Linked DNA regions of Homo sapiens. The protein of the gene in region 1 purifies or fractionates together with the protein of each later gene. This does not show direct contact. Each region holds a gene or a part of one and is shown in the gene's direction. Other genes may lie near its edges. The genes, in order: ARMC6, METTL9, SLC27A2 and DDX19B.

Region 1 (7,027 bases):
CCAGCACTGTAGGGGCTCCCTGTGGGGGTGCCAGCAGGGGCAAGAATGCAGCCAGAGCCAGGAGGGATGGGAGCCCCAAGGGAGAAGGCTGTGGGGTCCCTCCCTCCCCCACCAAGCCCACCAGGCAGCATGTGGCACCTCACTGCACAGACGTGGCCTGTGATGACAGCCTTGTGTGACAACGGCCTCACTACCACTCTGCTCCCTTTGGCCCACGGACCAGTGGCAGAAACACCCAATACCCTCTACACCCCCGTGATGATGTGGCATGGGCGGGAATAGGGAGGTGGGAGGCTTCTGGAGTGGGGTGGTCCCAGCAGAAGGGTCCTGAGGTGTGATTCCAGCAGGCCCACGGGGATGACAGCTGTCACTTTCTTTCTGACCCCTGTGTGCTTGCTTCCCCCACCCCCAACAGGGGTTGATCTGAGCAACATTGTAAAGACGGCACCTAAAGTCTCTGCAGACGGATCCCAGGAGCCCACACATGACATCCTGCAGGTAGGAGTGGGCATCCCACACAGCAGGTCCTGCGTCACCTCTGTCTGGGGGCACCTCTTCCCTGTTTCCTGGATGGCAGAATACAGGCTCTGAAGGTCATGCCCTCCCCAGCATGCATGGGCAAGCTTGAGTTTGCAGCCAGGTCTCCCTGAGTCCATGTCCGAGGGCGGCATGCCTTCCAATGCAGGGGATCCCAGGCTCCTGTGGTGGCATGTATGCTGAAATCAGGTAGATGGCTTGGTTGTCCCTGCTGCTGGGATCCCAGAGTCAGGGACACCATAGAGGTGCCCCTCTGGCTTCCCAGAGACAGATGGTCAGGACTCATAGGACGAGAGAGTGGGCTCACAGTAAGGCTGTCACTTACTGAGCACTGACTGTTTACCAGCACTTTCCAGCCAGTCCGTTAGCACTGAAGCTCACCAGTGAAGTAGGTGGTGTCATTCCTGTCTTAGTGATGGGGAAACAGGCCAGGAGCTGGCACTTAACCTCTCCAGAGACCGAAAGAAGGAAGGTAAAAGAACTTCAATGCTTTCCGTAAGGTCGCCCATCAAACTTTGTAATACAGCAGAAGGCTCCGGTGTTTGAGAACCGACTGTGGGCCTGGTTCTGTGCAGGTACTTTTTTCCTGTCTTCTTGGTCACTGTCCAAACAACACCTGCAAGGCTGGGATTTCCCCATTGTAGAGATGGGGACATTGAGATCCAAAGAGAAGAGAAGTCATTGACATGGGAGCAGGAGGTGCAGTGATAGGAGAGGAAGTTGGAAGAGACGGCTCTGGGTGTAAACCCGGCTTGCCTAAGGCATGACACTTACTTCTCCCTACCTCGGGGTCCTGCCCTCTCCTGCCTTGAGGAGGTCTTGTGAAAATTGCCTCGTTGTTGTTAGTTTGCTTTTTGCCTTTCTTGCCTAATAAGGATGAATTTATTTTATTATATATATATTTATTTATCTATTGAGACAGAGTCTCACTCTGTTGCCCAGGCTGGTGTGCACTGGCGTGATCTCAGCTCACTGCAACTTCCACCTCCCAGATTCAAGTGATTCTCCTGCCTCAGCCTCCCGAGTAACTGGGATTACAGACACACGCCACCACACCTGACTAATTTTTTTGTGTTTGTAGTAGAGACGAAGTTTCACTATGTTGGCCAGGCTGGTCTCGAACTCCTGACCTCAGGTTATCTGCCCGCGTTGGCCTCCCAAAGTGCCGGGATTACAGGCATGGGCCACAGTGCCCAGCCTGGATGAATTTATTTTAAAATGAGTTTGTCTTCTGGCTATCTTTGCATTGGGTGATTCATCTTTTTCCTACTGATTTGTAGATGAAGTTTATATAGGAAGGATCTCAATAACAATATCGTCTATATTGTCTAGCAGTTACTGCTTAAGTACTTCTTAAGTGCTCAGCATTATGCTAAATTCTTTTTTTTTTTGAGACAAGAGTCTCACTCTGTTGCCCAGGCTGGAGTACACTGGCGCAGTCTTGGCTCACTGCAACCTCTGCCTCTTGGGTTCAAGCAATTCTCCTGCCTCAGCCTCACAAGTAGCTGGGATTACAGGTGCACACCACCATGCCCAGCTAATTTTTTTTTTTTTTTGAGACAGAGTCTCGCTCTGTCACCCAGGCTGGAGTGCAGTGGCGTGATCTTGGCTCACTGCAAGCTCTGCCTCCTGGGCTCACGCCATTCTCCTGCCTCAGCCTCCCGAGTAGCTGGGACTACAGGCGCCCGCCACCATGCCTGGCTAATTTTTTGTATTTTTAGTAGAGACGAGGTTTCACCATGTTAGCCAGGATGGTCTCCATCTCCTGACCTCGTGATCCGTCTGCCTCGGACTCTCAAAGTGCTGGGATTACAGGCGTGAGCCACTATGCCCGGCCTATTATGCTAAATTCTTAAAATATGTTCTCTTAATCTGTGCTCAGCCCATCTTGCTGGTGAGGTATCTGAGGCTTCCCAAGGATCAGTGACCACGCCCCTGCACCCCGAAAGGTCAGCTGGTGAGAGGCAGAGCTGGTACCCGGATCCAGGAAGCAAAGCACTGAAAGGCCGTTCTACCAGCAGTACAGGAAACTCCGTGTTTGTTTATAACATTCGCTCCTTTTTTTTTCTTAACTGTTCTTTTATTTATTCATTTATTTATTGAGACAGAGTCTCGCTCTGTCGCCCAGGCTGGAGTGCAGTGGCGTGATCTTGGCTCACTGCAAGCTCCACCTCCCAGGTTCATGCCATTCTCCTGCCTCAGCCTCTGGAGTAGCTGAGACTACAGGCGCCTGCCATGACGCCCGGCTAATTTTTTGTATTTTTTAGTAGAGATGGGGTTTCACTGTGTTAGCCAGGATGATCTCGATCTCCTGACCTTGTGATCCGCCTGCCTCGGCCTCCCAAAGTGCTGGGATTACAGGTGTGAGCCACCACGCCCAGCCTATTTATTTATTTTTTGAGATGGAGTCTCACTCTGTTGGCCAGGCTGGAGTGTAGTGGCCCTTCCTCAGCTCACTGCAGCTTCCTTCTCCCAGGTTCATGCAATTTTCCTGCCTCAGCCTCCCGAGTAGCTGGGATTACAGGCGTGCACCACCACGCCCAGCGGATTTTTGTATTTTTAGTAGAGATGGGATTTCACCACATTGGACAGGCTGGTCTTGAACTCCTGACCTCAAGTGATCTGCCTGCCTCGGCCTCCCAAAGTGTTGGGGTTATAGGCATGAGCCACTATGCCCAGCCTATTTTTTGTTTTGTAGAGATGGGATCTTGCTATATTGCCCAGGATGATCTTGAACACCTGCCCTCAAGTGACCCTCCCACTTTGCCCTGCCAACATGCCAGGATTACAGGTGTGAGCCAACATGCTCACCTGTTTTTTTTTTTTTTTCTTTTTCTATTTCTTTTTTTTTTTTTTTTGACACAAACTCTCACTCTGTCACCCATGCTAGAGTGCAATGGCAGGATCTCGGCTCATTGCAACCTCCACCTCCCAGGTTCAAGTGATGCTCCTGTCTCAGCCTCCTGAGTAGCTGGGATTACAGGTACCTGCCACCATGCCTGGCTAATTTTAAATTTTATTTTTCATTAAGGAAGAGTGGAAATACATTCTTAGCATAAAGGATTCAAGCAATACTCAAGCATTTATAGTAAAATCTGAAAGTCCCTGCCTTGTCCCTCCCACCAGACACTGGGGTTTGCATCTCAGCGGTCAGTTCGCAACTGAACCAACCCCCTTCTCAAATGCCCTGCAGCATAATTGACCTTTGTGCATCTTGGCTTAGATGTGTAAAAAATGCTTATCTGTTGAGGGAGAAAAAAATTCAACATTGTGATGGTCGTTGAAATTAATCTGTTTGTGTCATAAGATTTGTTGCAAACAGGCTTGTAGAAACAGAAGGAAAATAATGTCTGGAGACTGTCCAGGGAAAAACTGAGCCAGCCAGGCCACATTTATATGTGGGAAGTTGTAGAATGAAAGGCATTAGTCACAGAGACTGAATGACTCCAGGAGTCAATGGGTAAAGCCCCCCTCCATGAGCAAGGTGGTGAGCGCCACAGAAAATTGTCATAGGTAGAACACAGCTGGCTCTGCCACCTGCATTTTAGCAACCATCTGTCAATGAAAATACTCTATAAAATATTTCAAGAGATTTATTCGGAACCAAATATGAGTGACCAAAGGCCCATGACACAGCCTCGGGAGCTCCTGAGAACATGTGTCCAAGGTGGTCGGGCTACAGCTTGGTTTTATACGTTTTAGGGAGACATGAGATATCAATCAATACATGTGAGACGTACATTGGTGTGGTCTGGAAAAGTAGGGCAGCTGAAAGCCGGGGCTTCCAGGTCATAGACACATTTAAAGATTTTTCTGGCCAGGTGCTGTGGCTCACGTCTGTAATTTCAGCATTTTGGGAGGCTGAGGTGGTCGGATTGCATCGAGCTGAGGAGTTTGGGACCAGCCTGGCCAACATGGCAAAACCCATCTCTACAAAAAATACAAAAATTAGGCCACGTGTGGTGGCTCACACCTGTAATCCCAGCACTTTGGGAGCCCAGGCAGGTGGATCACCTGAGGTCAGGTGTTCGAGACCAGCCTGGCCAACATGATGAAACCCCGTCTCTACTAAAAATACAAAAATTAACCGGGCATGGTGGCAGGTGCCTGTAACTCCAGCTACTCAGGAGGCTGAGGTAGGAGAATTGCTTGAACCCGGGAGGCAGAGGTTGCAGTGAGCCAAGATTGCACCATTGCACTCCAGCCTTGGTAACAAGAGCGAAATTGCATCTCAAAAAAACAAAAAACAAAAAACAAAAATTAGCTGGGCATGGTAGTGGGTGCTTATAATCCCAGCTACTTGGGAGGCTAAGGCGGGAGAATCACTTGAATCCAGGAGGCGGAGGTTGCAGTAAGCCGAGATCATGCCACTGTACTCCAGCCTGGGCAACAGAATGAGACTCAGAAAAAAAAAAAAAAGATTTTCTGATTGAAAGAGTTATCTAAAGACCTAGAATCAATAGAAAGGAATATTTTGCTTAAGACGGGTTGTGGAGATCAAGGGTTTATCAAGGAAGCCTCCAGGTAGCAGGCTTCAGAGAAAATAGATTGTAAATATTTCTTATCAGACTTAAAAAGGTGCCAGACTCTTAGTTAATTCTCTCCTGAATCAGGGAAAAGACCTGGAAAGGGAATCTCTGTAGAATGTAGCTTTTCCCCACAAGAGATAGCTTTGCAGGGCCATTTCAAAATATGTCAGAGAAATATATTTTAGGGTAAAATACTTTGATTTCTTTCCATACTGTATTAGTTAGGCTGGAACTTGGTGTCTTATTGCTACAAAAAAGTCTTACGATGATCAGTTATGTCTGACTTCCAAAGGCAGGAAGATAAAATGAGACATATTTGACCGCCACTTCCCATCATGACCTGAAGTAGTTTTTCAGGTTACCTTTGGAATACCTTTGGCCAAGAGGAGGGGTCCTTAGTATGGATGAGGACTTAGATTTTTTTTTTTTTTTTTTTTTGAGACAGGGTCTCCCCAGCTAGAGTGCAGTGGTGTGATCTTAGCTCACTGAAACCTCTGCTTCCCGGGCTCAAGCAATTCTTCAGCCTCAGCCTCCCATGTAGCTGACTACATGGTGTGAGCCACCAACATCTGGCTAATTTTTGTATTTTTTTTAGAGACAGGGTTTTACCACGTTGCCCAGGCTGGTCTTGAACTCCTGAGCTCAAAGCGATACACCTGCCTTGGCCTCCCAAAGTGAAGAGATTACAGGCATGAGCCACCATGCCCGGCCAAGAATTTTATTTTTAGTTTACACATCCTTGCTAACTTAGTAATTCCTTGTGAAATCTTGGTAGTTCTAACTCCAATACTGTGCATCCTCAAAGGCATTTCTGTCAGGAGCTTTTCAAGTTTCTTACAGGGTTTCTGCTGAAGTGCTACACCGCTGTTTGTTATGTAAAATGTGCATAAAAACATTTACCATTGTAACCATTTTTAAATGTAGAGTTCAGTGTCATTAAGTACATTCATAATGTTGTGCAACCATCATGACTATCCATGACTTGCGATACTGAAACAAACTCCATGTTCCTCTTCCCCTCAGCCTCTAGCAACCATCATTCTACCTTCTGTTGCTGCAAATTTGACTACTCCAGGACCTCATATAAATGGAATCACAGGCTGGCCACCCTGGCTTATGCCTGTAATCCCAGCATTTTGGGAGGCTGAGGTGGGCAGATCACTTTGAGGTCAGGAGTTAGAGACCAGCCTGGCCAACATGGTGAAACCCTGTCTCCACTAAAAATACAAAAATTATCCGGGCGTGGTGGCACATGCCTGTAGTCCCAGCTGCTCAGGAGGCTGAAGCGGGAGGATTGTTTGAACCCAGGAGGTGGAGGTTGCAGTGAGCTGAGATGGTACCACTCCACTCCAGCCTGGGTGACAGAGGAAGACTCCATCTAAAAAAAAAAATTTTTTTTAAATAAATGGAATCACAGTATTTGTCTTTTGGTGACTGTCTTATTTCACTTAGCGTAATGTCCTCAAGGTATATCCATAGCATACTATGTGCCTGAATTTCTTTGTTGTCATTGTAGTGTTTTTTTGTTTGTTTGTTTTTCTTTTTGGAGACAGAGTCTCTCTCTGTCGCCCAGGCTGGAGTGCAATGGCACGAGCTCAGCTCCCTGCAACCTCCAACCTCTTGGCTCTGATGAATCATGCTGCTATGAACATGGGTGTACAGGTATCTCTTTGAGACTGTGCTTTCAGTTCTCTTGAGTGTATCCCCAGAAGTGGAACTGATGGGTCACACAGTAATTCTGTTTGATTTTCTTTTTTGAGATGAATGCTCCGTATGTTGCCCAGGCGAGTCTTGAACTCCTGGGATCAAGTGATCCTCCTGCCTTGGCCTCCCAAAATGCTGGGATTACAGGCATGAGCCACCACGCCTGGCTTCTCTGTAGGTTTGAATTGCATTTTTCCTAATGATTAGTGACATTGAGCATCTTTTCATGTATTAGTGGCCATTTGTATGTATTCTTT
Region 2 (7,027 bases), on another chromosome or scaffold:
ATTTTTAAATGGTTACCAAGAAAATATCAAAATAACATTTTGTAATACATGAAGTTTCATTTATGGAATTCAAATTTATTTCAGTGTCTACAAATAAAGTGTTTTTTTTTTGAGATGGAGTCTCGCTTCGTCACCCAGGCTGGAGCGCAGTGGCCCAATTTTGGTTCACTGCAACCTCTGCCTCCCAGGTTCAAGCAATTCTGATGTCTCAGCCTCCCGAGTAGCTGGGATTACAGGTGAACACCACCACGCCCAGATAATTTTTGTAGTTTTCAGTAGAGATGGGGTTTCACTATGTTGGTTAGGCTGGTCTCAAACTCCTGACCTCAAGTGATCCTTCTTCCTGGGCCTCCCAAAGTGCTGGGATTACAGGCGTGAGGTACTACACCCAGCCCACAAATAAAGTTTTATTGAAAGAGAACTACCACATTCATTTACCTGTGGTCTATGAGCTCCCTGGCTACAATAGCAGCATATTTGCTACTGTATGGCCTGCAAGCCTAAAACATTTACTACGTGGCTTCTTACAGAATAAAGACTTTTTCCAAGAGAAATTCCCAGCTTCCTTAACAAACAGCTTTTTTTTTTTTTTGGAGACAGGGTCTCACTGTGTCACCCAGGCTGGAGTGTAGTGGCACAATCTCAGCTCACTGCATCCTCGACCTCCTGGGTTCAAGCGGTTCTCATGCCTCAGCCTCTCCATAGCTGGGATTACAGGCACGTGCCAGCACACCTGGTTAATTTTTGTAGTTTTAGTAGAGACAGGGCTTCACCATGTTGGCCAGGCTGGTCTTGAACTCCTGGCCTCAAGTGATCTTCCCACATCGGCTTCCCAAAGTGCTGGAATTACAGGAGTGAGCCACTGCAACCAGCCTCCAACAGCATATTCTTAATCACAGGTTGCAGGGTGGGTAGATTGACTCACTGGGAAGAAATAGAGGCAGGCAGTGAGAAACTAGTAGATATTGTCACTTTGCAATGTTGGCAGACTCAGAATTTAAAAAGACAACAACAAAAAACTTAGGATCTATTCTTTTTGATGCATTGCACCTAGTGCTTAAAGTTAATGCAACTATTATGGAGCTACTGAAACTTTGAAAGGACCCTTAGGCCCCAGGTTCTTGGTAATAATAGCGGTTCAGTAGCTTCTCAATTGATGGAGTGAAAAAATTGTTATAGAACTCGCTGAACCAAACCACAACGATTTCTCCGGGTGACATACTGCAAGGTTTTTTAAAAGCACAGATAACATTCAATATCTGGAATTATTAAGTTGTAACTTAAAATTGCAAGTATGTGTATATTTTTGTGACTTATTTTTTCACTTTCTTATATAAGCTCAGAACTGCGCTATGCCACAAGTGATGAAGAATTCAAGAAAGAATTAAAATCCTTTTTTTTCCCCCAAATGAAAAAATACTTGGACAGCATAGCCAGAGCCAAACACTGTGCTAAAGGACAGAGTGTTTCCTGTCCCTTTACCCCTCACTTACCCTGTGGAGGCAGACTGGAGTCAGGCATGAGTTAACAATGCTTCAAGGATAGTCAGCCAGCTAAGCCGGACAGACACTGATGGATTGGCGTCCTTCTCTGAACTGCCTTCGAGAGTCTGGAGGCCTTTGCAGCTGAATACCAAAGAGACTTCAGAAAGGATTTCTTTGCTTCCTCATAATCTGTGTTGAAACCCCAAGTGTTTGCTTCAGTTTCACAGAACACTAGAATCTCTTTCTTGTGCTGGATATACCAGGAGTCTTTATGTTTCTCTTTGAAGGTGCCCTAGAAGACCCTAATAGCTTCCAGTAAAAAGCTCTGTTGTGTAGACCCTCTGAAGCTTTGTTAAAATTTTAGGATTATCCTGTCCTATGGGGAGTGAGTATTTAGTATTTGCAATGAGGATTGCCAGTAATTGGTTATTAAATCAAAGCTGAAGCCATTTAATCTGTTTTAATTGATTCCCCTCATGGATATGAGGGTGCCTGTCACTGTACACATTGAAATCTCACATAAAGAGGTTATTGGGTTGAGTTTATATTGTTTGTGGGAAAATGGTGAATGGTCTGAATATTTACGCCTATGCTGTGCTTAAATGCAAGGTGTGCATGGTGAAATGTCTGGACTGAGTTGACTGCATTGTAAAATCTTAGAATGTGAATTTTGAATCCTTAGCTGTCAAGCTCTGTTGATGGAGTTGGTCTGGCCAACTTAGAAAAGATTCTGTGTTCATAGATCCTGAGCAGTGGAGCTTTTCTGATTGTTTTTGGTAGCCCTGAATGCCTTGGGTCTTTGATTACCCATTTCTTTTGAGAATGGCTGGATGCCTAGACCTACAGTTTGGTTTTTAGGCATTCCCTTGAACTGTACTTCTCCTCTGACCAGCCCTTGCCTTGGAGAGAAAGGGGAAGGAAATATGAAGAGCTACTGGCCTTCTATTGTGTGCCAGGCACTTCAAATATATTATCCCCAGTAGTCCACATAGAACTCTTGGAGGTTGGTGGTATCATCCGCACTTTACATACAGAAAAGTGAGGGTGAGAGAGAGAAGAGACTTGCTCACCAGCACAGAGTTAATGGATGATAGAGTTGGGCTTTGCACCCAGCTTTGGTTTCAAGGCAACACATTTTCTGCTGCTTTATGATGCCCCTCCTGGTAAACCTTGTGTTGTCTGAGGGGTGGTAAAAATAGGCTTGCCTTCTTTTTTTTTTTTTTTTTTTTTTTTTTTTTTTTTTTTTTTGAGAAACAAGTTCTTACTCTGTCACCCAAGTTGGAATGCAGTGGCCTGATCATATCTCACTGCAGCCTCAAACTCCTGGCCTCAGTACATCCTCCTGCCTCGGCCTCCTGAGTAGCTTCTAAATCTTTTGTAGAGGCAGGGTCTTGCCATGTTGTTCAGGCTGGTCTCAAACTCCTGGCCTCAAGCAGTCCTCCTGCCTCAGTCTCCCAAAGTGCTGGGATTACAGGCGTGAGCCACTGCTCCTGGCCTAGGCTTGCCTTCTGAATAGGAAACTGCCCTCATTCTAGTGAGGCCTCTGTGTAGACACTGAAGTTAGGTAGCTGTGTGCACAATACTTGTTGAAGATTTTGTAGTTTGTGAATTAGATGAGAATAAGACAGCTGCTTGAAGTTCTGGCCTTTATCTGGTTTGTGCATGCTTTTTTTAAGGCTTAAAGTTGAAAAAAGATTCTTACATGTATTGTCATTTTTTCCTGACATCAGCCATTCTCTAATTTTCCATCACCAAGTGGGTGTTTAATTGTTCAATCCTGTTCTGACATTAACTACCTGGAGTTAGGGTCACGCTTTACAGAGTTAAGAGCTCAGTCCCACAAGACTGCCCTCACTTCAGAGGCCAGCTGGAAGTCCTGGGTTCCCAGGCTGCCAGTGCTTTTGTCCACCTTGAACAAATTTGGGAGTTCCCACAACTCTACCTTCACCCTACCCCACCCCACCCCCTAATTTCCTATAATAGAATGACTCATAGAACTTAGGAAAACACAGGTGCGGTGGCTCACGCCTGTAATCCCGGCACTATGGGAGGCTGAGGTGGGTGGATCACGAGGTCAGGAGATCAAGACCATCCCGGCTAACAGGGTGAAACCTGGTCTCTACTAAAAATACAAAAAAATTAGCTGGGCGTGGTGGCACGTGCCTGTAATCCCAGCTACTGGGGAGGCTGAGGCAGGAGAATCGCTTGAACCGTGGAGGCGGAGGTTGCAGTGAGCTGAGATTGCGCCACTGCACTCCAGCCTGAGCGACAGAGCGAGACTCCGTCTCAAAATAATAATAATAATAATAATAAACCACTTAGGTTTACTGGTTTATTACAAAGGATACAATTGGGGAACGGCCAAGTGGAAGAGGTGCATAGGGTGAGGTGTGGGAGGTGGTGTAGAGTTTCTCTTTCCTCTGATGAGCCACCCAACCATCATATCAATGTATTCAGCAAACTAAAAGCTCCCAGGACCCCATAGTTTAGGGGTGTCATTACATAGGCATGATTAGACTCAGTCTTCAACTCCTTTCTCATCCTTGGAGATTGGAAGGTGGGGCTGAAAGTTTGAACCTTATACCCACATCCTGGTCCCCATCCTGAAGCTGTCTGGGTCTCCCACCCCTATCAGGAGTCATCCTGTTAGCATACAAAAGATACTCTTATTACCCTGAGATTCCCGAAGGGTTTTAGGAACTCTCTATCAGGAACCTGGGACAAAGATCAAATATGTATTTTTTATTATACCACATCATCTAAAATCAGTCAGTTTTTAAAATTACTTTCTGACTCTGCTAGTGTGCTTAAATCCTTTGTATTTTGGGAATGTTGTATTTTGGATATGTTGTATATCACATGTTTGATTAGTTGATAAACTCCAAAAATAATTTCAGAAAAACTTTTAACCATATTTGGTCTGATTAGCAAATCTAATTTTATAGGAAAATTGCATTCCTACTTTGAACGAGTGATTCATCAACCAAGGTTATATATAAATATTAGGAGGAGTTCATGGGCTTAATGAGAAATTTTTTTTTTTTTTTTGACAGTCTTGCTTTGTCGCCCAGGCTGGAGTGCAGTGGCACACTCTGGGCTCACTACAACCTCTGCCTCTCTGGTTCAAGTGATTCTTTTGCCTTAGCCTCCCAAGTAGCTGGAATTATAGGTTCCTGCCACCACGCCTGGCTAATTTTTGTATTTTTAGTAGAGACGGGGTTTCACCATGTTGGCCAGGCTGGTCTTGAACTCTTGACTTCAAGTGATCTGCCCACCTGGGCCTCCAAATTGCTGGGATTACAGGTGTGAGCCATCGTAGCCAGCCAGGAAATTTTTAAGACAGTATGACCTAATATTTAATAACTTCGGTTGGCGAATACTGTCAGACATGCATTCAAAACGCGTGGCAGCCACCTGATTTGGCTGTTTACTGCCTGGCCAATTATTAGTATCTTTGCAGTTGTGTTGCCAGTAGGGAGAATATTGCTATTTACTGTAATTTTTAGATATCACATCCTGTTCTGTACTTGGCATCAGCAGATGACTGAATGGAATCATTCTCATTTGATTAGAATTTGTCATTTAAAAGATTCCCTTGTTTATTTAGATGAAACAACATTTGAGTGAGCTTTAAAGGCAGATGCTAATAAGATGCTTTTTCAGACATGGTAGGCTCCAGCCAAGGAGTCCAGCCTCACAGTAGAGTGGGCGTGTAGTCCTGTCAGTGTGTGAATTTAACGGGCATAGTACTTTGTTCTTGCCTGTGCACCTTTGTCTCTGTAGTCTTTAAGGAGCACACATTTAAAGAACTCACCTGCGGCTGGGCGCAGCGGCTCACGCCTGTAATCCTAGCACTTTGCGAGGCCGAGGCAGGCAGATCACCTGAGGTCAGGAGATCAAGACCAGCCTGGCCAACATGGTGAAACCCCATCTCTACTAAAAATACAAAAATTAGCCAGGCGGGGTGGTAGGTGCCTGTAATCCCAGCTGCTTGGGAGGCTCAGGCGAGAGAATCACTTGAACCCGGCAGGCAGAGGTTGCAGAGAGCCTAGATCACACCACTGCACTCCATCCTGGGCGACAGAGCAAGACTCCGTCTCAAAAAAAACAAAGAACTCACCTGCTTGAAAGTACACAGGAGCATACAGACAAGCCACCCAGTGCTGCGAGCTTAGCGTAGCTTTTTATCTAAGCTGGTTGTTTGGAGAGAGGTGAAACCAGGAGTCCTGCCCATTGGGTTAAAGGGGTTCCTGCAGATTTTTTCTCTCCTTGGTCCTTGGTATTTCACCTTAAGGGCAAGGTGACTGCTCCTTTAAGGCTCTGAAGCTCCTCGCCAAGATCATAGTCACATTACTTGTTTCCCTTGGTTTCTGATTTTATTTTCACTCTGGAATGTAAGTTCTCTGAGGCCAGCGAGTCCATCTTTTAATTCAGTCAGCTGGAGTCCCTAGACCATAGTTAGGCTGGGATAGTGGGAAACACTACTGGAGAGTCAGTACAGTGACATTTTGTGGGTAAGGCCATGTATGGGTTCTCAAGCAGTGGCAGTTTTGCCTCCCAGGGGACATTTGGCAATGCCTGGGACATTTTGGGCTGTCATTTGGGGTAGTGCCACTGTAACCTGATGGATAGGCACTAGGAATGCTGCTGAACATCCTACAATGTGCAGGTCAGCCCCTATAACAAAGGATCATTTAGCTCCAAATGTCAGTAGTGTGAAGGCTGAGAAACCCTGGCTTACAGGACTTTAGTTACTATCTAGACCAGATTATCTTTTCTCTACACACATGTAGTTCAGTTTAATTGGCAGGATAGTCCTGCTTTCTTTTCTTTAGCAGACACACTGGGTAGAGTTAAGTGAAGAGAAGCTTCTTTGAAAGAAACGCTTATAAAACAACACGTACCTGGAGCAGGAGCTTGAATCAGCTGGAGCTGCTTAGGGACCCTATGCTTCCCATTTATTCAGAAATTGCAAGGTGGTAAATGAAATGTAAAGCACATGGCTTGGTGCCTGGTGCATGATAGGTGCTCAGTTGGTGTCTTCCTTCATTGCTTGCTTCCTTGCTTGTGGTAATGCAATTTTGTGGTGAGTGGGTAGCTGTAACCACTGGTTGCAAAATTAGGTTTAAGCAAGGCCTTGCAGAGTTTGAGAAATTGACAGAAACCCCATGGCAGCGATCTCTGTGGTTATCCTTATGTTTCCTCTAGGATTTTGTTAGAAACTCCAAATTCTGTTTAGGCTGCCTGTTGATGAACATTTATTGTTTGTCTGTATCTGTGCCAGGCACTGAAGCCATTCATTTTCTCTGCCTTTATGAAGCTCTCAGTCTACCTGGGAAGATAGGCACTGAACATGCGATTGTCTACAATTATTCAATTCAGAGATTGTAAATATTACCAAAGGGACAAATGGGATGTATGAAAGGGTATTAGAACAGGGGGCCTAGCCTAGCCTTTCGTAGGTATATTTTCCTTTGAAAAGAAAATATACCTAGGAAATATTTAGGCTGAAGTTGAACGAACCAGGTGAAGAGAGAGTGGGT
Region 3 (7,027 bases), on another chromosome or scaffold:
TTATAACTTTGTTACAATGCATGTTTTCACAGTCAAATAGAAAACCCCTTTTATTGGGAGGCCGAGGCAGGCAGATCACGAGGTCAGGAGATCAAGACCATGCTGGCTAACATGGTGAAACCCCATCTCTACTAAAAGTACAAAAAATTAGCCAGGTGTGGTAGCGGGCACCTGTAGTCCCAGCTACTCAGGAGGCTGAAGCAGGAGAATGGCATGCATGAACCAGGGAGGCGGAGCTTGCAGTGAGCCGAGATTGCGCCACTGCACTCCAGCCTGGGCGACAGAGCGAGACTCTGTCTTAAAAAAAAAAAAAAAGAAAGAAAAAAAAAGAAAACCCCTTTTAGGGAGAAAAAAGAGAATGAGCATCCTCTGATTTAATCTCGTAAGTCAGAATTTATATTTAATTGGAAGACAATTAGAAGGGTGTTTATTTTACTTTTTTCATTTTCTCTGAATCAAATATTTGCTAGGCCAAGCACAGTGGCTCACATCTACAATCTCAGAACTTTGGGAGGCCAAGGCAGGAGGATTACTTGAGCCCAGGAGTTTGAGACCAGGCTGGGCAACATAGCGAGACCACATCTTTACAAAAACATTAAAAAATTAGCTGGCATAGTGGTACACCTTGTAGTCCTAGCTACTTGGGAGACTGAGGTGGGAGGATCACTTGAGCCCAGGAGTCTGAGGCTACAGTGACGTGCCACTACACCCCATGCTGGGTGACAGAGCAAGGCACTGTCTGTAGAAAAAAAATAGTGCTAAGTTACTCTTGTAAACATTAATTAAAAGAATTTGTTTAAACAGTTGGAGAATAAATGTTCCTGCTCCTCAAAGGAAGTCATTAGCACAAAATTATATAATAGTTACCAGATATTCTCATTTATTCATTAATACAAAATCTTAATTTAGGAAAGTTCTGAAAGTACTTCAAGGCAACAAAGATGAGCATTTCTTTTTAAAAATTTCAGAGGCCAGGCATGATGGCTCATATCTATAATCTCAACACTTTGGGGCCAAGATGGGAGGCTCACTTGAAGCCAAGAGTTCAACATCAGTCTGGGCAATAAAGCAAGACCTTGTCTCTACAAAAAATATAAATAAACAGCCAGGCATGGTGGTGCACACCTGTGGTCCCAGATACCTGGGGGGCTGAGACAGGAGGATCACTTGACCTGAGGCTGTGGTGAGCCTTGAACACCACTACACTCCAGCCTGGCAACAGAGTGAAAGCCTATCTCAAAAATAATAATAATAATAATAATAATACATAAAACAAAACAAAAAACTGGGCCATTGTCAAAGAAAATGAATTTTGAATTGTGTTTACAATAATGGTAGGTTGCTAGCCATATTTGTCTGCCTTGTAACAAGTTGCTGCTATTTGGGCACTATCTGGTGAAGGTACCACCAAGTATTGAAGAATCTGAGTCAACAGAGATCTGTCTTCCTCTTCACGAAGTCTGTTTACCCACTCAGATCTTAAACTCTTAGTCCCCTTCCCAGTGACTTCATGCCCTCCCCAATTGAACTGTTCTTCCATGGGAAACAACATAAGCATACACTTACAGAAGAAAATCTTACAAAAAACGTATATAAATTATGGTTAAGAAAGTGCAAGCGCATTTAGTCTAATGTACTAAAACTACACTGAGATACGGTTTTTCACCTTTCAGACTGGCAAAGGCCCCAACATTTAAGAGCACACATTGACAAGGCTAGGAGGAAACAGGCACACTCATGTATTGCTGATAGGAGAATGAATGGGGACAGCCCTTATAACTGGCAATGTGGAAGTTATCTATCAAAATTACAAAGACTCTTACTCTTTTTTTGAGACAGAAACTCATTCTGTTGCCCAGGCTGGAGTACAGTGGCAGGATCAGGGCTCACTGTAGCCTCAACCTCCTGGGCTCAGGCGATCATCCCACCCAAGTAGCTAGGACTACAGGTGCATACCGCCACACCCAGCTAATTTGTTTTACTTTTTGTAGAGGAGGGGTCTCACTATGTTGCCCAGACTGGTGCTGAACTCCTGGGCTCAAGCGATCCTCCTGCCTCAGCCTCCCAAATTGCTGGGATTACAGGACTGGCCAACTTTTATCTTTTGACACAACAATCTCACTTCAGTGAATTTATCCAAAAGATATGGTGTCATTCATAGTGTGAATTGCCACGTGGACGAGCTTCTTCACTGCAGCATCATTTATAACAGCAAATAGTATAAATAAATTATAATACACTTATAAAAGGACTTGAAGGAGCTGAGAAAGAGAATAAATAAATGAATAAATAAGGGAAATCTTTATGTACAAACATGAACAAATCTCCAGTAAACATTGTTAAGCAGCAGAGACAAAAAACATGCAAAAGAGTGTGCATATTTCTTTTTTTTTTTTGAGATGGAGTCTTGCTCTGTCACCCAGGCTGGAGTGCAGTGGCGCTATCTCGGCTCACTGCAACCTTTGCCTCCCAGGTTCATGCCATTCTCCTACCTCAGCCTCCTGAGTAGCTAGGACTATAGGCACCCACCACCACGCCCGGCTAATTTTTTGTATTTTTAGTAGAGACGGGGTTTCACCATGTTAGCCAGGATGGTCTTGATCTCCTGACCTTGTGATCCGCCCGCCTCAGCCTCCCAAAGTGTTAGGATTACAGGCGTGAGCCACCGCGCCTGGCCAAGTGTGCATATTTTTTAATGGAAAAGGCAAGAACATATAAGCAAATGTTCATATTTGCTTTGTTTGTATAAAATAACTCTAGTACGTAAGAAATCTCTCTGACTCTCAGCCTTCACATCTGTGGATTGGAGAATATAATTCTGTTTATGTCATATATAAACTTGTTATGGATTTTTAAAATGTCTTGCAAAGTGGTAGCCACAGGGCAGAAATTCAATGGACAGTCATTCCTCTGTTTCTGTTTCTCTTCAGATTACTACTGTCATAACCATCTAACTCAGGAGTTAGCAATCTATGGCTTGTGGGCCAAATACAGCCTCCCACCTGTTTTTGTAAATAAAGTTTTATTGGAACACAGCCACACTCCATTTATGTATGTGTATGGCTGCTTTTGACTACAATAGCAGAGTTCAGTTGTTGCAACAGAGATTGTATGACCCACAATCCCAAAACATTTACTCCCTGGTCCTTTATAGAAAACATTTGTCAACTCCTGGACTAACTGGTCATGGCCCTTCCCAGTGCAATTCTCAAAATACAGGGTGATGAATCTTCCTAAGCCAGATCTCTCTCCTACACTGTAAATGCCCAATCTTGGTTAACTCATGCCTTCTCTTGTATATTTACAAAGGTCTTCCAAAAGCAGCCATGATCACTCATCAGCGCATATGGTATGGAACTGGCCTCACTTTTGTAAGCGGATTGAAGGCAGATGATGTCATCTATATCACTCTGCCCTTTTACCACAGTGCTGCACTACTGATTGGCATTCACGGATGTATTGTGGCTGGTAAGCTTTTTCTACAAAATGTTGGAGGCGAGTGCACATTTACATTTTCCCAGAAGGAACAGTAATACAAAATTTGGCTACGTTGCTGTCTGCTAGGAACAGTTTTCAATTTTGCATTAACAATAAGGCAATTTGAATCACATATTACAAGCAAGCATCTAAAATAATCTGTTTTTCATGCCTGCCTATCTAATAATGTAATGCTATAATTGTTCAGTATATCAAGAGACAAACTCCTTTAAAATATTTTAGGGCTGGGTGCAATGGCTCACACCTGTATTCCCAGCACTTTGGGAGGCCAAGGCAGGAGGATTGCTTGAGGCCAGGAGTTCAAGACCAGCCTGGGCAACATAGCAAACCTCATCTCTAAAAAAAATATATATATATATATATATAGCCAGGCATGGTGGCTCAAGTCTGTAGTCCCAGCTACCCAGGAGGCTGAAGTAGAAGAATTGCTTGAGTCCAAGAGTTCAAGATTGCAGTGAGCTGTGATTGCACCACTGCACTCCAGCCTGGGTGACAGAGTGAGACCTTGACTGTAAAAAAAAAAATTTTAGGTTATGACACTTGAGTCTTAGATTCTATGTCATGTCATTTCCATCTTTAGAAACTTGCATGTTAATCTCCATCAGCTTTAAACTTCTGCAGTTGTGTGCACTCTTCTGTAATCTCCCATTTCCACAGCTTTTCAGCTCTACTAGAAGGAGAGAAGATGGCAACTCCATCAGAATACTTGGCTTGGCTTGGCTTGCCATCTCTTCTGTTTCCTTCTCAGACTTTACTATTCAAATTGGAGTTGCCATCCTCTCTCCTTCCAGGAGGATTCATGTCACTTGTATACATTACCGCAAAGTTCAATAGCCAACTCTTCCAGGAAGCTATATGTAACTTTCTGACTGAGCTAAATAAACAACTTTTTCTCTCATGTGGCATTTCATTTTAAATAATCATATATGTATATATAAAAATATATACACATATGTATATACACACACATATATGCGTGTGTGTATATGCATGCATGTTATGGATGGATATTTGTGTCCCCCAAAAATGTATATGTTGAAATCCTAACCCCCAATATGATGGTATTAGCAGGTAGGGCCTTTGGGAAGTAATTGGGTCATGAGAGTAGTGCCTTCATGAAAGGTAGTGCCCTTATCAGAACAGGAGACAGCCAGCTTCTTTCCTGACTCTGTTCTGTTCCATGTAAGGACACAGGGAGATGATGACCATCCCCAAACCAGGAAAAATGCCCTCACCAGACACCAGACACCTTGATCGGGACTTCCCAGCCTCCAGAACTGCAAGAGATAAATGTTGTTTAAGCCACCCATCTGTACTATTTTGTTATAGCAGCTCAAACACACACACATACACACACACACACACAATCCAAAAATTTGAAATCCAAAATGCTCCAAAATCTGTAACTTTTTAAGCACCAGGACACCACAAGTGGAAAATACTACACATAAGTACTTAACACAAACTTTGTTTTATGCACAAAGTTATTTAAAATATTGCATGAATGGGCCAGGCACAGTGGCTTATGCCTGTAATCCCAGCACTTTGGGAGGTTGAGGTGGGCGAATCACTTGAGGTCAGGAGTTTGAGACTAGCCTGGTCAACGTGGCAAAACCCCATCCCTTCTTAAAAAATACAAAAATTAGCCAGGCATGATGGTGTCCACCTGTAATCCCAGCTACTTAGAGGCTGAGGCACGAGAACCCACAAGGCAGAGGTTGCAGTGAGCCAAGATTTCACCACTGAACTCCAGCCTGGGCAATAGAGTGAGACCCGGGCCAGGTACGGTGGCTCACGCCTGTAATCTCAGCACTTTGGGAGGCCAAGGGGTACAGATCACGAGGTCAGGAGATTGAGACCATCCTGGCTAACACAGTGAAACCCCTTCTCTACTAAAAATACAAAAAATTTGCCAGGTGTGGTGGCACGCGCCTGTAATCCCAGCTACTCAGGAGGCTGAGGCAGGAGAATCACTTGAACCTGGGGGGCGGGTGTTGCAGTGAGTCGAGATGGCACCACTGCACTCCAGCCTGGGTGACAGAGCGAGACTCTGTCTCAAAAAAAGAAAAAAAAATAGAGCAAGACTCTGTCTCAAATATATATATATAAAATACATATATATGTATGTGTGTGTGTATATATATAATATATATGTATGTGTGTGTATATATATGTATGTGTGTATATATATATACTTGAGACAGAGTCTCACTCTATTTATACATATATTTAGTATATATATAATATAATATATATATATATTGCATGAAATCTCTTTCCCTCTCCCCTCCCTCCCTCTTAGGACTTCATTTGAATCTCTTACTGCAAGCTAACTTTTATTAAAATGACCTTTGTATGAGTCTTCTCCTCCATAGATTGGAAGCCCCTATCGAACAAAACCATGTCTTACTAATTTTTTGCATTTGAATATAAGGTACTCAATACTTGTTTGCAAATATAATTTATTTTTAAATTTCTACCGTTCAAAGTTGACAAATTAAACATAACTGGGAGAATTTTTTCCACCATTTCTTTCTTGACACTTTCTGTGCTTTCTCTGTAGGTGCTACTCTTGCCTTGCGGACTAAATTTTCAGCCAGCCAGTTTTGGGATGACTGCAGAAAATACAACGTCACTGTCATTCAGTATATCGGTGAACTGCTTCGGTATTTATGCAACTCACCACAGGTAACACTCCCCCCGTTTTACTATCATTTTGAAATGGGTAAGATGGAAATTCAAGTCACTTTGGGTTGTGCTAGGCTTCAACTGATTTGCATATATCAGTTTTGAGTTTAGGATACAATTATCATGATAAAGTACTTGGCACTATACCTACCATATAGAGGGGACTTAGTAGGTGGGAGTTAATATTATTATTATGATGATGATTATTTCCTGCCTTTTTACTTGTTTTCACATCTTACTCCCCACCTAGCATATCCTGCATTTCCCCCTCTGCTTACTAAAAGCCAGTGTCAAAGCCCAGTTCAAATGATACCTCATACATTAAACATATTTGGGTCACTCCAACAAAAGTCATTACTCTTCTCCCCTACGTCATTTTATTTCTACCCTCTGTGGCCCTTGTCATGTTGCAGGAGTTTGTGTTCATGTCTCCCATCCTTCCTTGGCTGTAATATCTTTGATGGCTGGAACCACATCTTGTCTCCTTGTTTTCTGTTATACCGAAGGCATACAGGAAACTTTTACTTAATGCTGTTTAACAAATAAATCTCTGTGTGACTTTGAAACCAGCCAGCCAAGTCTGTCACCAAGCTGGGAACAGATGCCCCAGGGCATCTCCAATGGCCTTGGATCTGCCCTGTTTGCAGATGTTCAGCTCTCGATGGGGTTGTTCTCAAGAGCTCCTCCTGCCCAGTCCCTCAACTCTCATCAGAGATCTGGTATCAGATAGGATTTATCAATGGTGGCACTGCTGACATTTTGGGCTTTTAATTCTTTGCCGCGCGGACTTATTCTGTGCATTGTAGAGTGTTTAGCACCCTTTGGACTTTGCCCACGAGAT
Region 4 (7,223 bases), on another chromosome or scaffold:
CTCCTGGGTAGAGGAATAACAATATTTCTCGAGGCTTCGGCCCAAGGTCTTAGCCTTGTGATCTAGAATCCGCCATCTGTGAGGTGGGTACTTCCTGTGATTTCAGGGGAAACTGAGACTGGCTAGGCTCACGTGGGAATAAATGCAGGAGGCTGAATTCCAATCCAGATGCTCTTATTCCCCGAACACTCTTCTTTCCACGCCCGCTTTGGAAACCAGGTTCCTTCTTAGCCGGAGTCTCACAAAGCGCAGGTGTATTGGGGGTGAACTTAGGAGAGTCTGAAACCCCGATGCTATTTTTAAGTTTTTTTGTTTTTTGTTTTGTTTTGAGACAGGCTGGAGTGCAGTGGCATGATCACGACTCACTGCAGCCTTGAACTCCTGGGATCAAGTGATCCTCCCACCTCAGCCTCAGGAGTAGCTGGGACTACAGGCTCACGCCACCACGCCCAGCTACTTAAAAAAAATTTTTTTTTTTTTTTGGTAGAGACGGGGTCTCCCTATGTTGCCCAGGCTTGCATATTTATTTAGTAGAAGAAAAAACACATGCTAAAATCGTGTACGGGAAGGATAAACACCAAATTTGGCATAGCTGCTGTCTTCCTGGGATGAGTATACGGAGATTATCAATTGGACCTTAGTAATTTTATTTATTAAGTTTTGAGGTGGGAATCTAAGTATTTGTTATACCCTTTCTTGTTTGTCTGAAATACATTTTTAAAAGGGAAACATGGAGCCAAGCACAGCTGCACACACCTGTAGTCCCAGCTACTTGGGAAGCAGAGGCAGGTGAACCTCTTGAACTCAGGAGTTCAAGGATATAGTATGTGCTGTAATGGTGCCTGTGAATAGCCACTGCACTCCAGCCTGGGCAACATAGCAAGACCCTGTCTCTAATTTAAAAAAAACCATGCATATGGAAAATAATTTCAGAGGATAAAGCATACTCAATCCACCCCCACCCTTCTAGAGGCCCTCACCAGGGGCAGCCATGGTTATCAGTTTTGTGTGTATCTTAAGCATTTTTTTTTTTTTTTTTGAGACAGAGGCTCGCTCTGTTGCCCAGGCTGGAGTGCAGTGGCATGATCTCAGCTCACTGCAACCTCTGCCTCCTGGGTTCAAGCAATTCTCTGCCTCAGCCTCCCAAGTAGCTGGGATTACAGGCACCCACCACCATGCTCAGCTGATTTTTGTATTTTTAGTAGAGACAGAGTTTCACCATCTTGACCAGGCTGATCTTGAACTCCTGACCTCGTGATCCACCACCTTGGCCTCCCAAACTGCTGGGATTACAGGCGTGAGCCACCGCACCTGGCCACATTTTTTTTTTTTTTAAGAGGCGATGGTTTCACTATGTTGTCCAGGCTGGCTTCGAACTTCTGAGCTCAGGCGATCCTCCAACCTCAGCTTCAGGAGTAGCTGGGACTGCAGACACAGGCCACTGCTCCGGTCTTCTTAGGCATTTTCCATAGTGTATAAAAGCATATATGGGAGCTTGGGGGCTTTTGGGGTGGGGGTTCCTGTTTGTTTTGTACAAGTGAACCTACTATATACGGTCCTGCAACTTGGGCGATGTAATTTTTAACCTCATTAAAATGTTTTGCAAATTTCATTAACCTCTAGCCCTGTGAAACAATATAATTTATCTGGGAAAATATCCCCAGGGTTGCTTCTGAATTGATGAGATGTAGGTCATGGCTACCAAGGTGGTGTTTGCCTTTTTCTTTTTAGCACATCCTCATGTGTAAGGTCAAAAACAAAAAACAAAAACGTCTTCTCCAGTTAACCCTGTGAGAGTGCAGGAAAAAATAATCATAGCAAGTAGAATGTTCTCTGGAACTGCTTTACCCTTTCTCAAAACGTTTTTACTCTTACAGTACTGGTAAAATTCCACAGAGAACCCACCATGGCTTGATTTTTGTTTGTTTGTTTTTATTTATGTATTTATTTGAGACAGAGTCTTGCTCTGTCGTCCAGGCTGGAGTGCAGTGGCATGATCTTGGCTCACTGCAACCTCCACCTCCCGGGTTCAAGCGATTCTCCTGCCTCAGCCTCCCAAGTAGCTGGGACTACAGGTGCATGCCACCACACCCAGCTAATTTTTGTATTTTTAGTAGAGACAGGGTTTCACCATGTTGGTCAGGATGGTCTCAATCTCCTGACCTCGTGATCCACCTGCTTTGGCCTCCCAAAGTGCTGGGATTACAGGTGCAAGCCACCGTGCCCAGTCTATTTATTTATTTTTTTTGAGACAGAGTTTCACTCGTCGCCCAGGCTGCAGTGTGATGGCATGATCTCGGCTCACTGCAACCTTTGCCTTCCGGGTTCTAGTGATTCTCCTGCCTCAGGCTTACAAGTAGCTGGGATTACAGGTGTGCACCACCATGCTTGGCTAATTTTTGTATTTTTAGTAGAGATAGGGTTTCACCATGTTGGCCAAGCTGGTCTTGATATCCTGACCTCAGGTGATCCACCCACCTTGGCCTCCCAAAGTGCTGGGATTACAGGTGTGAGCCATTGTGCCCGGCCTCATGGCTTGAAATTAACTTATTGTTGTATAATATTGGCAAAATGAAAGAGGTTGGGATTCATTTTTTTCAGATTGTAGGAAAATGCCTAGTTTCTTTCTAGGGAAGTAACAAGGGAAGAGAAGCTTCTTTGATTCTAGTTAGGAGAAAGCAGTTCTTTCATTTAATCCTTATTTTACAACTACTAAAAGCCCAAGATATTTCTTCCTATTTATTTATTTGTTTATGAGGCAGAGTCTTACTCTGTTGCGCAGACTAGAGTGCAGTGACACAAACACTGCTAACTGCAGCCTCAACCTCCTGGGCTCAAGTGATCCTCCCACCTCAGCCTCCCAAGTAGCTGGAACTGCAGGCATGTGCGACGACACCTGGCTAATTTTTAAATTTTTCTTGTGTAAGGATAAGGCCTCGCTATGTTGTTGTTTTCAAACTCCTGGATTCAAGCGATCCTCCCACCTCCACCTCCCAAAATGCTAGGATTACACATGTGAGCTACTGTGCCTGGCCAATCCTGGCACTTTGGGAGGTGGAGGTGGGAGGATCACTTGAGCTCAGGAGTTTGAGACCAGCCAGGACAACACAGCAAGATCTGTCTCTATCTTAAAAAAACAAAAGGCCGGGTGCAGTGGCTCACGCCTGTAATCCCAGCACTTTGGGAGGCCAAGGCAGGCGGATCACGAGGTCAGGAGATTGAGACCATCCTGGCCAACATGGTGAAACACCATCTCTATTAAAAATAGAAAAACTAGCTGGGCATGGTGGCGCATGCTTGTAATCCCAGCTACTTGGGAGGCTGAGGCAAGAGAATTTCTTGAACCCAGGAGGTGGAGGTTGCAGTGAGCCGAAATCGTGCCACTGCACTCCAGCCTGGGCGACAGAGCCAGACTCAATCTCAAAAAACAAACAAAAACCCAAGTGCTGAGATTACAGGCATGAGCCACCACACCTAGCTCTATTTAATTATTTTACTATTTTAATTTTATTTATTTTTTTCCTAGACAGAGTTTTGCTCTGTCACCCAGGCTGGAGTGCAGTGGCCCTGTCATGGCTCACTGCAGCCTAGACCTCCTGGGCTCAAGTGATCCTTCCGCCTCGGCCTCCAGAAGTGCTGGGATTACATGCATGAGCCACCGCACCGTCTGTTTTCTTCCTTTTTAACATTCTCCTGATTCTACAACGCTTACATAGGAGAGCTGCAATTCCTCCTCTTGGGGTACAAATTTATGAGTGCAGGTGCAGTTTTGTTACATGCCTAACAAGATTGCATAGTGGTCAAGTGGACTTTTAACCAAATGGGTTGTCAGGGCTGATTGCCAACATCTGGACATTTTAAATTACCAATCTGAAAAGGGAAACAGCTCTGTGCTTGTTTTGCATTTTGGTGACTATTGGTAATGGTTTTCTGTTTTGATATATTCAATCTGTTCAATCTGTATTAGTGCCTACTCTGCCACTGTGTTGGGCGGGAATCTGATTTTGTTCTTTGGTTGGAGATCCAAGTTAACCAGAGCTTAGGCATTTTAAGATAACTACCTCAGCTTGATAGGAAAGCTTGCTCTGCCCGGGGTTGAGGGGTACGGGTCTGAGGGCAACAGAATCGACAGCCTCAAGTGGGCAAAGGGTGGCCAAACAGGAGTGGCCTCCGACGTCACTGTGGCGCGCCGCTTCCGGTCTGCAGCCTTGTAGTGGGGCTGGAGCAGAGCCTGCCGCGAACCCCCGGAGCCCACGATCCCTCGTGCCATCCCTCGAATCCACCAGCACGAGCGTCCCACCCGCGCCTGGGACCATGGCCACTGACTCATGGGCCCTGGCGGTGGACGAGCAGGAAGCTGCGGCTGAGTCGGTGAGTTGGCTTCAGCCCTAAAAGGGTCAGGGGACTAGTTCTGGTCGGAGACTTGGTCCCTGGGAAAGAATGTTTCCCAGGTTGATTAGAGGCTGGATGGGGTGGCGGGGAGGATAGGGATGGAGCCTGGACCCTGAGCTGGCTTTGTTTACGCAGCCGCCTCCGCGTTACGTAAGCGCAGGTGAGTGCTCCTATCGGTAAAGCGCTCAGCTGCCTGTCTGTCTTCCTGGAACCAGGAAGAATCATAGATTGCACCCATCACCCTAGATTGTGTTTTGTTTGTTTTTAATTGAAATAGAGACATGGTCTTGCTAGGTTGCCCAGGCTAGTCTGGAACTCCTGGTCTCAAGCTATCTTCCTGCCTCGGCCTTTCAAAGCACCAGGATTACAGGCTGAGCCATTGTTCCTGGCCGCCCCGGTTTGTAATAGTTATTTTAGGTGTCATTCTCCACCTCTACATTCAGAGCTTCTTTGGCTCAGGGACCATGTCTTTGCTCATATTTGTGTGCTTCCTCAGTGATAAATGATGGACCCAGTAGGTGTGGCAGTCAGCAAATCCTTTCCTCATCGGCTTCACTTTGTTCTTTTTTTCTGGACCTGACACATGGTAAGCAAGAGATGTGTTAAACACTACTGCGTAGAATTAATTTCTCCCACCGAAACACTTTAAATCCTAGTAGGCTTTGAACCTACTTCTGTTAGTACTTATTGCTATGACTTCCTCAAGAATAAGAACCTTGTCTTTTATTTTTTATAGCTCATAAAAAATAAGTTGTATATACACATTGTTTAAAGAGTGAAGTTATTTTAAAAACAACGGTTCCCGCCAATTTTTTTCCTCCCCAGAGGCAACTCCTTTTTTTTTTTTGGAGACAGGGTCACACTCTGTTGCCCAGGCTAGGGTGCAGTGGAGTGATCTTGGCTCACTGCAGTCTCTGCCTCCCAGGCTCAAGCCATCCTCCCACCTCAGCCTCCTGAGTAACTGGGACTGTAGTCATGTGCCACTATGCCCAACTACTTTTTGTATTTTTTTTGTAGAGATGGGGACTTGCCATGTTGCCCAGGCTGGTCTCGAACTCCAGCGTGCAAGTGATCCACCTGCCTCAGCCTCCCAAAGTGCTGGGATTACAGGTGTGAGCCACTGCATCCAGCCTCTTTTTTCTGTTTCTTTCTTTCTTTACATATATTTTTTGAGAGAGGGTCTTGCCCTGTCACCCAGGCTGGAGTGCATTGACACCATCTCTTGCCAACTACAACCTCCCCTTCCCAGGCTCAAGTGATCCTCCCACCTCAGCTTCCTGAGTAACCGGGACTACAAGCATGTGCCAACATATGCAGCTAACTTTTTAATTTTTTGTGAAGACGAGGTCTCACTATATTACCCAGGTTGGTCTTGACCTGCTGGGCTCAAGCCATCCTCCCACCTCGGCCTCCCAAAGTGTTGGGATTATAGGCCTGAGCCACTTTGCCTGGCCCTTTACTTTTCTATAAAATTTATTTTACTTGGAATTCTTAATTGCCTTATGTTTATGCTTCATTTTTTTTTCTTAATTATCAATTCAACCCCAAACTGTCTTCCAGTTGTCTAAGTTTATCTCAGGATGCTTAGACTCATCAAGTATTCTATCAATTCCATTTCTCCTAGGCCTTTAAGTCTGCTTCAAATTGGACTAGTTACTCCTGTCTTTAGAGCACAGTTCATATTGGGGAATAGAGGGAACAGGGCAAATTTCCCTTCAGCCTCATTCTGCAGATTCCTTCCTCCTTTCTCTTGTCTTTTGGATCTCTTGGATCCCTTCCTTTCTGTACCCCTACTTTTCCATCTTTCTTGATTTATTCCTTATTTTAGTGCAGCCATCTGTCAGCTTTCTGGAGGTGTACGGGAAGTAAATTACTTTAAGAATATTCCATGTCTTAAAAAATCTAACTTTGCCCTGTAATTTGGATAATAGTTTGGCTGGGTATAGAATTGTAGGTTGAAAATTATTTTCCTGCCAAATTTTAAATGTATTGTTCCATTGCCTTCTAGATTTCTGTATTTGTTGTTGAAATGTTTGAGACCATCCTGATTCTTGATGTGACTTGTTTTCCCCTTTCTAAGCTTGGAGAATCTTCTGTTTGTCTTTAATATTCAGAAAATTTATGGTAATATGTCTTGGTATGGGTGTATTTTCATCCATATTACTGGCCCCTGGGTGTGGGTACTTTCAATCTGAAAAACTCTTGTTCTTCAGTTATGAGAACTTTTCCTGAATAATTTCATTGCTGATTTCTTCTTCTTTGTTTTTTCTTAATTCCCTCTTTTCCAGAACTCACTTTCTCTCTTTCTTTCTCTCTCTCTCTTTTTTTTTTTTTTTTAAGACAGTGTCTGTCTATGTTGCCCAATTTGGAGTGCAGTAGCTATTCACAGGCAGAATCATAGTGTACTACAACCTTGAACTCCTGGGCTCAAGTGATCCTCCTGCCTCAGCCTCCCTCGTAGCTGGGACTACAGGTGCGCACCACTGCATAGCTTTTCCCAGAACTCTTATTAGATGAATGTTGGATCTGTTGGACTGGCCCTTTAATTTTTTTTTTTTTTTTGAAATGAAGTTTCGCTCTTGTCCGCCAGGCTGGAGTGCAATGGCACGATCTTGGCTCACTGCAACCTCTGCTTCTTGAGTTCAAGCGATTCTCCTGCCTCAGCCTCCCGAGTAGCTGGGATTACAGGCATGTGCCACCATGCCTGGCTACTTTTTGTATTTTTAGTAGAGGTGGGGTTTCACCATGTTGGCCAGGCTGGTCTTGAACTCCTGACCTCAAGTGATCCGCATGCCTCAGCCTCCCAAAGTCCTAGAATTACAGGCGTGAGC

The links.
Region 2: the proteins of ARMC6 (region 1) and METTL9 purify together in Homo sapiens (co-immunoprecipitation; 3 studies listed by BioGRID and IntAct, with this or other methods). This does not show direct contact.
Region 3: the proteins of ARMC6 (region 1) and SLC27A2 purify together in Homo sapiens (affinity purification with mass spectrometry; 3 studies listed by BioGRID and IntAct, with this or other methods). This does not show direct contact.
Region 4: the proteins of ARMC6 (region 1) and DDX19B purify together in Homo sapiens (co-immunoprecipitation; 2 studies listed by BioGRID and IntAct, with this or other methods). This does not show direct contact.

What each region holds. Positions count from the first base shown.
Region 1 is NC_000019.10:19,043,577-19,050,603, forward strand, and holds part of ARMC6 (armadillo repeat-containing protein 6), read left to right. Parts: intron 1-415; coding exon 416-498; intron 499-7,027.
Region 2 is NC_000016.10:21,602,565-21,609,591, forward strand, and holds part of METTL9 (protein-L-histidine N-pros-methyltransferase isoform 1 precursor), read left to right. Parts: intron 1-7,027. UniProt on the Homo sapiens protein: Protein-histidine N-methyltransferase that specifically catalyzes 1-methylhistidine (pros-methylhistidine) methylation of target proteins.
Region 3 is NC_000015.10:50,199,178-50,206,204, forward strand, and holds part of SLC27A2 (long-chain fatty acid transport protein 2), read left to right. Parts: intron 1-3,309; coding exon 3,310-3,468; intron 3,469-6,061; coding exon 6,062-6,186; intron 6,187-7,027. UniProt on the Homo sapiens protein: Mediates the import of long-chain fatty acids (LCFA) into the cell by facilitating their transport across cell membranes, playing an important role in hepatic fatty acid uptake.
Region 4 is NC_000016.10:70,294,984-70,302,206, forward strand, and holds the start of DDX19B (ATP-dependent RNA helicase DDX19B), read left to right. Parts: upstream 1-4,202; 5' UTR 4,203-4,314; coding exon 4,315-4,371; intron 4,372-7,223. UniProt on the Homo sapiens protein: ATP-dependent RNA helicase involved in mRNA export from the nucleus.